Linked DNA regions of Homo sapiens: region 2 is linked to region 1. Evidence: fine-mapped expression QTL. A gene starts in region 1. The other region holds a variant in brackets. All regions are shown on one strand. Distances are between the middles of the regions.

Region 1 (5,368 bases):
CATTCTCCTCAGACAAACAAAACACTAAAAAGAATCAGGGCTCCTTGGGGAAATGACTGATTTCAGGTCTGGGACATGGAGAGCACAAGATGATCTTGGAACAATTTGCATCAGACATCAAGGAAGTAATAACAATAATAACAAATTACGATGTTTTGAAGACATGGAGCCAGCTTGGAGGAGCTCCCACGGGCCAAATCTGCTACCATTTGAGCATCAAAGCAAGTAAGGAAAGTAATGGATTGTAACCCACGGAGTAAAATAAGAATCCATGGATCCATACTGCTAATGAATGAGAGAGAAGGGAATAGATGAGAAGGTATAGGTGCCTCACAGTACAAAGGCAACTCATAAATGGAGAAGGACTAATGGAAATAGAAAAGCAGCCAGTATGGCTGGTCGCGGTCGCTCACGCCTGTAATCTTAACACTTTGGGAGGCCGAGGCAGGCAGATCACGAGGTCAAGAGATCGAGACCATCCTGGCCAACATGGTGAAACCCACTCTCTACTAAAAAAAAAAAAAAAAAAAAAAAAATTAGCTGGGCATGGTGGCATGCGCCTGTAGTCCCAGCTACTCGGGAGGCTGAGGCAGAATCACTTGAACCCGGGAAGCAGAGGTTGCAGTGAGCCGAAATTGCATCTCTGCCCTCCAGCCTGGGGACAGAGCGAGACTCTGTCTCAAAAAAAAAAAAAAAAAAAAAAAAAAAAAAGCAGACAGTATGGTAATAATTATTTCAGGCAAGAAGTAGTCATGAATGCCAAAACCAGTGGGTCAAGGTTTGAGGAGTCATAGGCTATATCTATGGTTGCAAAGTCTTCACTCATGACACTAATTACCAAAGAAAAACCCAGCATCAATCAGAGAAATGCAAATCGACATCACATACCTCCCGGCTGGTGCTCTGAAAACTCAGCAACACCTCAGTGACAGTCCTGCCAGAAACGCATCACCTCATCACCCCATGAGCATATACCAGTGTGCACTGCACTCCTCAGAAAGGTCAATCAAAGGAGACTCAGGAAACCTGACGACTGAATGCAACTGGATCCTGGACCACAAAAACAATACTGAAACTCTCCAGTATGGTGTTGGGCCCTCGTGCAATTAGAGTGTGGACTGTGCATTAGATAGTGTCAGTACCCTGTGTGCTGTGATTTCTGCTGTCATGGCTTCTTTCTAATTTGGTCTTGAGGGAGAGTGACCATAAGCCAAGATAGCCACTCTCTAGGAGAACCGAATGGGTGTGGGGTTCAGGTGAGATACAATGAGAAAGTAAAATTAAAAGGTACAAAACAGAAGGAATTTATTATTCTTAGGTTCCGGAGAGGTTAGGGATGCCTAAGAGAGGCGGACAAGCAGATGGAGAGGGGCAGTGAGAGACGGTGGGAAGGAAGGGACTATGGCTGTGCTAGGGTCCATGGAAATCATCCTTTAGGATTTCCCTTGGGGCCTGTGGACTGGCTAAAGAAAATACGAGGGAAGGGTGAACTCATCTGCACTGATACTGGCCATTAGGTGCTATGGCGGTCAGCGGCTGTGGGGTGTGTTGCGCTTTAGGTCAATGAGATAAAGAATAAACGAGTTATCTCACACACCACCATATACGGAGAAGTGTTACCTACGCCAAGGCGAAGGGTACGACTGGCTTTCAAACAACTTAAGTCAGGCCTAAAAATAGATGCGGAGACAACAATTATATTTACCACGTTTATGACCCTGTATTAATGGAAATGTCTTTATTCCCAAGAAATAGACCTTGAAGGACTGAGGGGCGGTGCTGAGGTTCCCGCTGGCCCCTGGGCGCCCCCTGCTGGCCCGTCCTCCTCCCGCCCCCAGACGTCTGCACAGAGCATGCGTCACACCGTCCACGGGTTTCCAGCAGCAGCCGTTCACCCGCGCTCTCGGATGCGCTTCTAGCTCGTGGCCTCCCGGGCTCTGTCCGCGTTGTTCGTCCCACGGTCGGGAGCCCAGTCCTGCCGCCCCGCACCCGCCTCCCCCTGGGGGTTCTCCCGGCAGCCGTCTTGCCACCCCGCGTGGCCGCCGGCTGCCAGAGGCACAGGGGAGCGCGAGGCCCGGCGACCGAGCAGTGTCCCCGGCTCTGAGTGTGGGGAAGGCCGCGGGGCCGCGCCCACTCGACCGCCGTCCAGGGGACTGCAAGGCGCCGGTACATCCGGCTCGACGCTGGCGGCGCAGGCCAATCACGGACGGGGACGGGTGGGCGCGGGGCTGGACGGGTTTTGTAGTCGGTGCGCTAGCGGGACTACTGTCCCCACAGCCCCCTGGGCCACATTGGCGTCAGTGGCTGCGCCCGAGGGCCCGCCCCTCACAGAGCATGGGCCAATCATAGCCGGGGGCCGGGCGGGCGCCGGGCATGATGGACCTTGTGGTCGGAGCGCAGGCAGGACTCCAGCCCCCAGCGGGCCCCGCGCGCCGGAGGGGAGGAGCCGTGCGGCGGCGCGGGCGGGCGGGCGGCCGTCGGGGCAGGGCGGCGGCGGCGGCGGCAGCGGCGGCGGCTGAGGAGGGCCCGGCCTGCGAGAGCCTCAGTGGGAGCCGGCTCAGCCCTCGGCCACCATGTCGGCGCCGTCGGAGGAGGAGGAGTACGCGCGGCTGGTGATGGAGGCGCAGCCGGAGTGGCTGCGCGCCGAGGTGAAGCGGCTGTCCCACGAGCTGGCCGAGACCACGCGTGAGAAGATCCAGGCGGCCGAGTACGGGCTGGCGGTGCTCGAGGAGAAGCACCAGCTCAAGCTGCAGTTCGAGGAGCTCGAGGTGGACTATGAGGCTATCCGCAGCGAGATGGAGCAGCTCAAGGAGGTGAGCCGAGCCGCCCTGCCCTGCGACCCCCGCCCGGCGCCGGGGCCTGTGGGCGTCGTCCCTGGCACCAGGGCGGCCAAGGTCAGCTTGCCAAGCGGGGGCCGGCAGGGGTGGGCCGCCGGGGCGGAGGGGGCACGGGCAGTATGTGGGAGTGGGCCCGGCCTTGGCTAGCAGGCCGGTGCCGCGGCCGTTGCAGACGCCGCTAATGCAGGGGTCCGGGCGCCTTGTCGCCTCCTGCAGCTGCCCGCCTGCTTCTGTGCGGACCTGGGCGGCCCCGGCGGGGCGGGGCTTCGTAAGGGCTGATGCTTTGCGGTGGTCGCTGTTCCGGGTGTGTCTGAGTGTGGGGTGGGGTTGGGAGGGCAGTGGCTGAGCCGGGAGCTGAGGCCACGGATGCTGGTGACCCGCTGGGAGAGGCCGAGGGTGGGCCTGGGTCTGGGTGGCTGCGGCTCTGTCACCTTCAGAGAAAGCACTTCCCCTCTCTGGGCGCAGCTACTTTCGGAGCGTTTCTGCTTCTTTCATGAGTGCCTCCGAGGTGGGGAAAGGTCGTGGACAGCGGCCTAAGTGAGTAGGGGCTCGGGGTTGCACGTGGAGGTTGCCCCTGGCATGGGTCCCCCAGTACCCTTGCCCCAGGCCCAGCGCTGTGTCCTCATGGCCGGGATTGCGCTCCCACCAGCTAGCATGACTTCCCTGGCCCACTTCCTGTCCAGCCCCGCTTCTCGGGCCCTTCCCCTCGCTGTGGCTTGCTGTGTTCCTCTTGGACGGAGACCTCAGTGGTCTGTGTCATTCCCACTGGGGGGAGAGTAGGTTAGACCACCAGGCTGGTCGAGGGTCTCCAGGCGGCAGGGCAGCGGGAGTCTTGGACAGTCCTTCCCCAGCTTCTCTTCTCCCGTTCCCTGACTCCATAGCGTTGTTTGCAGGAATTGCTTTCTGGGAGGATACACCAGGGTTTGGATCCAGGCTGTGCCCCTTGCTAGTGATGTGGCTTTGGGTAGAGGCCCTCCGTGAGTCTTAGTTTCCCCCTCTGCAAAATGGGAGTGCAGTACTGCGTGCCCAGAAAGGATTGTTGTGAGGGTCATGTATTTGGAAAGGACTGGTGTGCGGTCAGGAGTATAGCTTGGTGGTGTGCTCCCTTCCCCCACTTGAGTGTGTCCTGGTGAGCCCTTGGCTCTTGGTTTCCAGGCTTATCACCTGGCACCTCTGCTCCCAGTCAGCCCAGACAGGTGCCTAAATCATTTGCAGCCTTCCTTGCCTCCCCCGTGTCTGAGGAGACCCGTCTGTGGAGAGCAGAGAATGAATCCAAGCAGATGCTTGGATGTCTGGGCAGAGCAGGTGCTCAGTTAGTACCAGTCAATGGCTGACCCTGGGCCAGCAGGAGCTGGGTCCTCCCCCATCGCCCTCAGGACTCGATTCTGTTGTCTGTCAGCAGGTATTGGCACCTTCTGCAATGCATGCTCCAGTGGCGCTGGAGCTACAAGAGGGGTGAGATGCAGCTGCTCTTGCAAGAGTCCCCATCTTAGGGTGGGGCGTGTGATAGGGAGGCAGGGGGCTCTGAGAATATGGAGTGGGAGTGGACTCGGCCAGTTTCTGGTCTCCTGTAGCGGGGCTCACCCTCTCCAGCAGGCAGCACTATCTGTTAGGGCGCTTTTCCCTCTGCACACAGTGAAGCAGCCCTCTTCCTCCTACCAAGTGCATCGTGAGCCGCTCCTGGGCAGCCTCTACAGTCCCTGTCTCTGTCCACAGCTTGGGTTTGGCAGTGTCCTCTGTGAGAAGGAATTGTCGCTGACTTAACTTGTCCCCGCTTTGGTGCCCTTCATTTGTCAGGTCTTTGCTATTCTGACACAAACGTTTTGGCACAGTGAAGAATCTTGGCATTTTCGTGGCATGTATCTGGAGGGTGAGTCCCTAGCAGAATCAGGAAGAGGGTATACCTGTTTCTGTGGGTACTCTTTAGGCGTCTGCTTGCTTGTTTTTTGTCACCACCTGGCTTCCATGTACTGGCCACATGGCCTTGGACAAATTACTGCTCTGTTCTGAATCTAGTTCTCCTTTGTAAGGTGGGATAAGAATGTTTCTGCTCGGTCTCTAGCAGAGTCTAGAGGAATGTGCATCAGCGTTTCAGTTTCAGTAGATGTTGCCAGAAAGTTTGTACCAGTTCACCCCCCATCAACAGCATGCGTGTTCCTCACACCCATGCCAACACAGGCTCTTGCTAACCTATTTAATTATGGCCAGTATTATAGTTGAAAATATTAACTCTTCATTTAAAAAAAACCACAAGATTTAAGGAGTCAATAATTGTGGGGTTTTTTTTCTCCTGTAGAGCGGTGTACCGCCTTAATTCTTTAGAAAACTTTATTTCTTGAACTAAAGTGCATTTAGTTACTAATAAATTGTGCTCCAAATGGAGTTGCTTGTACTTCTGCCCTGCATTTGTAGATAATAGGATCGTTGAGGGAAGGACGCTGGCCTGCTGGTCCCAGTGTGTGGGTTTCTGATCAGAGCTGAGGAGGGTCTTGTGGTGATGAATGGGAGACAGTGCCAGTCCTGTTGCCTTT
Region 2 (5,368 bases), 29 kb after region 1:
TGGCGCACTTCCCCATCCTCCCAGGCTCTGATCACCTGCCACTGTTTCCTCCTCTGCACTAGGCACAGGTCAGGGTTTCAGCCCTTCCAGCCTATATGTATAGTTTTACTTTCACAGAAAGTAACACTTGAAGAGTTGTTCTAAGGTGGTGGGTGTGCCCAGGTGATAACTGGGAGCTTTGCTGGTACTGGCGTCAGGAAAGAATGAAAACCGCAAAGGTAACTGTAACCTGTTGTTGGTCGTAATCTTTTACTCTTCCTTCATCGTCCAGCTTCTGTTTCTGGATCTCAGCCTCTATTTGGGGTGATGAGGGCCTAAGCGTCTGGTATGGGCTCATTCTAAAGCCACCCAGTCTCCCACGCGCTGCCCCACACTGGGGTTGTCAGGATCTCAGCATGTTAACACTGGTCCATTGACAATAGCCTCAACCACATCCTGAGTCAGAGATATGCTGACTCTGGAGGAGTTGCCTCCTTCTTGGGCATCCGAAAGGCAGTGGGATGCCTGGAGAGGAGAACAAGGAGTAACTCCCTGAACCTGTATTTTAAAGCTCCTATCGTCAGGGGGTGGGTGGAGTAGGAGGCCACATAGGCTCTGGTAAGTGAATTATGTTAACTGACTAAATCCCCATAGCACTAAGCTCAGATTGGTGACATTATTAACCCAGGTTTCACATGAGGAAATCGAGGCACATTGTGATTGGCGCCCACCACAGTCACATAGCCCTGCCCCTGCAGCTTATTTCAGAGGTGCTAGCAGGGGATGTTGGCTGTGCTTCCCTGAGATGGGGGTGGTGGGCACAGATGGGCCCGTGCTCACAGGTACCCCTGGGACCTGGCCTGCCTTCTCTATCTCCTAGGGGTTTGGGTGGGGTGGGGCACTGGGCTCATCTGTTGGACAGGATCCTTACTGCCCTGTTTTCCATCCTGAGGCCTATTCTGCCAGCCTTCTGTCTCCAGCCCTGCACCATCCCACGCTACAGCCAGACTGTGCACCCTTGGCAAGCATTGAGCTCTGTTGTGCCTCAGTTTCTCTGTGTGTGTGTGTAAAGGGGGAACATGTTCAGGGCTCCGGTCATGGAGCTGCTAAAACAATCTAACACACAGGGTGTGCTCAGTTCGAGGCAGCTGAAGATATTACTGGAAAGTGGTGCTGATCCAGATCCCAAGAGAGGGTTCTTGAATCTCACGCAAGAAAGAATTCAAGGCGAGTCCATAGAGTAAAGCGAAAGCAAGTTTATTAAGAAAGTAAAGGAATAAAGAATTGCTACTCCATAGGCAGAACAGTGACTTGAGCTGCTGGCTTAAGGATACTTATAGTTATTTCTTGATTATATGCTAAACAAGGGATGGATTATTCACAAGTTTTCTGGGAAAGGGGTGTACAGTTCCCAGAGCTGAGGGTCCCTCCCATTTTTTAGACCATGTAGGTAACTTCCAGACATTACACAGTGGGTACCTCGGGCTGTGGCATCTGTAAACTGGGGCCATCACAGGGCCATGGCATCTGTAAACTGTCATGGTCCTGATGGGAGTGTCTTTTAACATGCTAATGTATTATAATTAGCATATAATGAGCAGTGAGGACAACCGGAGATCACTCTCCTTGCCATCTTGGTTTTGTTGGGTTTTGGTGGGTTTGTAGTAATTACTGCAACCTGTTTTATCAGCAGTTAGTGTTTTATCAGTAATTACTGCAGCCTGTTTTATGTCTTTATGACCTGTATCTTGTGCCAACCTCCTATCACATCCTGTGACTAAGAATGCCTGTCTTCCTGGAATGTAGCCCAGTAGATCTCAGCCTCATTTTACCCAGTCCCTATTCAAGATGGAGTTGTTCTGGTTCAAACGCCTCTGACAGAGTCACATGATCAGTTCCACAGCTAATGGGTGCTGCTGTCCTTTAAGGATGGAGTCTGGATGTGGGCAGTTCACCTGAGCCCTTACGGTGAATGAAGAGGGGCCACCCAGAGCCTGCACTGCCCTGACAGGGACCGGCAGCCTCTTGTCCCCATGGGACTCTTAGAATGAGACTTAGGGCCTGAGTGAGCAAGGTCCCAGTGACTCCAGACCCAGTGTGCTGTGTGCCCGTGAACAGCAGGCCATTACTGTTTCTGCCATGCTCGTGGATGAGGACAGGGAGATAACAGAGATGAGGCACTCGCAGAGGTCAGGTGCTGTTTGCTTCACAGGCCCCCAGGCCTGCCCCTCCCTGCCCCGACTTGCCCTCAACTCCCCATTTCGTCCTCTGCTTGACAAAGCCCTGGGGTCTGGTTGCAGCTGCCCTTCCTCCCCAAGCCCTCTCCATTGTCTTCAAACTCCCCACTGACCTCAGGGTGGCTCCTAATGCTTCACAGAGAGTCCCTGGGACCTCCTGCCCCCATGTCATTGCTCGTGCTATTCCCTCAGATGAGGCTGGCCTTCCCACCCCATGTGGTTTTTGAAATCCCTTCCCTGAGCCCCTGTGATTTCTCCCTCCTGGCCAGAGCTTACCCCGCCCATCCCCACTTTTGATAGACCCAGCGTCTGTCCTGCAGCCTGTCCCGAGGCCATGCCACTGTGCAGGACCTGGCCTCCCTAATGGTGTCTGGTCCTGGCTCCCCTTAGGCACAGATGATTGTGCTATAGTCACATGGGTGTGGACAAACCTGAAGACAGCATTCTTGGCGGTCATGTGTTGGCCAAAAGCAAGGATTCTCCCCAAGGCGCCTGGCTGGTGGTGACCTCACACCCAGGCTCACCCAGTGTGTTAGATCCTGCTGGGCCTAGGCAGCTTCAGAGCAGTGGGTAGAGAGTGAGCCGGGAGCTTGT[G/A]TCAAGCACAGTGTTCGCCCATAGCCAGGGCAGCCCCTTGGGGGTTATCACCAAGGTGCTGCTTCCTCCTCAAAGCCCAGATGAGCCTAGTCTTATGGGCCAGGAGGGTAGGAACTTGGGCCTTCCACCTGTGTGTCCCTTTTGTTCCCCAGAGCAGCTGGAGAAGTTGTGGGCACGGGTGGGATGGAGGGCACATCTGGGATCCCCTTCCCAGACTGGATCCTGATGGTAGGTTGGGCAGAGAGCCCTCCTGTGGGTGGGCAGGGGATCATACCCTGCAGGGCACCAGCCTAGGAGGCCCACAGTGAGGCAGGGGAAGGAAGCTGCAAGGACAAGCCCACGGCTGGCGACCCCTTAATCAGATGGTGAACTCCAGTGCTCTTCTTAGTGCTTAATTGCACTCCTGGACCAGTGCTTCCTCCTGAGGAGACAAGATGGGGCAAACAGCCTGTGGGAGGGGGAGGAGGGAGTAACTCCAGCTGTCCTGGGTTGGGGGTGGGGGAGGTGGATTTTGTCTTCTCTCTTTTTTTTTTTTTTTTTTGAGACAGGGTCTAGCTCTATCACCCAGGCTGGAGTACAGTGGTGCGATCATGACTCACTGGAACCTCCGCTTCCCAGGTTCAAAGGATTCTTGTGCATCAGCCTCCCAAGTAGCTTGGGAATTACAGGTGCATGCCACCACACCTGGCTAATTTTTGTATTTTTAGTAGAGACGGGTTTTCACCATGTTGGCCAGGATGGTCTCGAACTCCTGGCCTCAAGTGATCTGCTTGCCTTGGCCTCCCACATTGCTGGGATTACAGGCATGAGCCACTGTGCCCAGCTGCCAACTATGCTAACTTCTAACAGCATAGATTAACTTCACTTATTCATGGAAGTTTATATATAAACAGAATCGCACAACATATACTCTTTTGTGTGTGGCTTTTTTCACTCAACATTGTTAGATTCATCTCTGTTATCTGTATAGCAGTAGTTTATTCATTTTTCATTTCTATATAGTATTATGTAAATAGTTACATAGTCACTGTTTATCTTTCTCCTGATGACAGATACTTGGGAACTCTGGTTTGAGCTTTTTTTTTTTTAAGACGGAGTCTTGCTCTGTTGCCCAGGCTGGAGTGCAGTGGCACGATCTCAGCTCACTGCAAGCTCCGCCTCCCGGGTTCACGCCATTCTCCTGCCTCAGCCTCCCCAGTAGCTGGGACTACGGGCGCCCGCCGCCACGCCTGGCTAATTTTTTGTATTTTTAGTAGAGACGGGGTTTCACTGTGTTAGCCAGGATGGTCTCGATCTCCTGACCTCGTGATCTGCCCGCCTCGGCCTCCCGAAGTGCTGGGATTACAAGCATGAGCCACCGCACCCAGCCTATCTTCTGAAAGTTTTATAGTTTTAGTTCTTATATTTAGGTATTTGATTCATTTTGAGTTAATTTTTGTGTATAATGTGAGGTAGGGGTTCAGCTTCATTATTTTGCATATATGTATCTACTTGCCCCAGCATCATTTGTTGAAAAACTTTTTTTTTTTTCCTCTGTCGTCCAGGTTGGAATACAGTGGCGTGATCTCGGTTCACTGCAACCTCTGCCTCCTGGGTTCAAACCATTCTCCTGCCTCAGCCTCCCAAGAAGCTGGGATTACAGGCACCCGCCACCACGCCCAGCTAATTTTTTTTTATTTTTAGTAGAGACGAGGTTTCACTATGTTGGCCAGGCTGGTCTCGAACTCCTGACCTCGTGATCTGCCCGCCTCGACCTTCCAAAGTGCTGGGATTACAAGCATGAGCCACCGTGCCTGGCCGAAAAACTATTCTTTGACATCAAATTATTTTTGTACCCTTGCCAAAAATCAATTGACCATATATATGAGGTTTTATTTCTGGACTCTATTCTATCCCGTTGGTCTCTGTATCTATCTTTACACTAGTACCACATTGTTTTGATCACTGTAGCTTTGTATTAAGTTTTGAAATTGTGAGTTCTCTCACGTTGTTATTCCCTTTCAATATTGTTTTAGCTCTTCTAGGCCCTTTGCAATTCCATATGAATTTGAAAATCACCTTTTCCATTTCTGCTAAAAAGGCTTTGGAATTTTGGTAGGGATTGCATTGAATTTCAAGTTAATTATCTTTTAAAGAGATTTAAATAAGAAAAATAAGTACTTTATATTTGCCTATTTAATTATCATTTCTTCCATGTAGATAAAGATTTCCATATGGTATTATTTTTCTTCTGCCTGAAGGATTTTATTTAGCATATCTTTAAATACCAATGCATATCTGCTGTTGATAAATTCTTTCAGCTTTTGTATCTCTAAAGTATTTCACCTCTATTTGTGAACAGTTTTCAGTGAGTATAGCATTCTAGTTAAGTTTTTTTGTTTTGTTGTTTAAAAGATGTTGTTCCACTATCTCCTGGCTTGTTAGAGAAATCAGCTGTCATTTATCTTTGCTCCTCTTGAGTCATGTATCCTTTTTCTTCTGGCTGATTTAAATATTTTTATTATATAATTGGTTTTAAACAATTTTATATTATGCCTTGGTGTAGTTTGCTTCATATT

Evidence for each region. PIP is the estimated chance that this variant, and not a neighbour inherited with it, causes the effect. A credible set is the group of variants that fine-mapping cannot tell apart.
Region 2: its variant is the best candidate, but not a certain one, in a credible set for the expression of BICD2 in whole blood (INTERVAL, PIP 0.81).

What each region holds. Positions count from the first base shown.
Region 1 is chr9:92,761,950-92,767,317 of GRCh38, reverse strand. BICD2 (BICD cargo adaptor 2) reads left to right here and starts at 2,485. Exons shown (of 7, transcript NM_001003800.2): 1 at 2,485-2,813. The coding sequence starts at 2,574. RefSeq lists silencers at 893-942, 1,795-2,534 and an enhancer at 4,358-4,517.
Region 2 is chr9:92,732,497-92,737,864 of GRCh38, reverse strand. The region is part of intron 1 of BICD2 (BICD cargo adaptor 2); the gene reads left to right. Among named protein-coding and RNA genes, the nearest start is that of BICD2, 30 kb to the left of the region's middle. RefSeq lists an enhancer at 2,518-3,117. The variant G/A (reference allele first, on the strand shown) is at 2,811.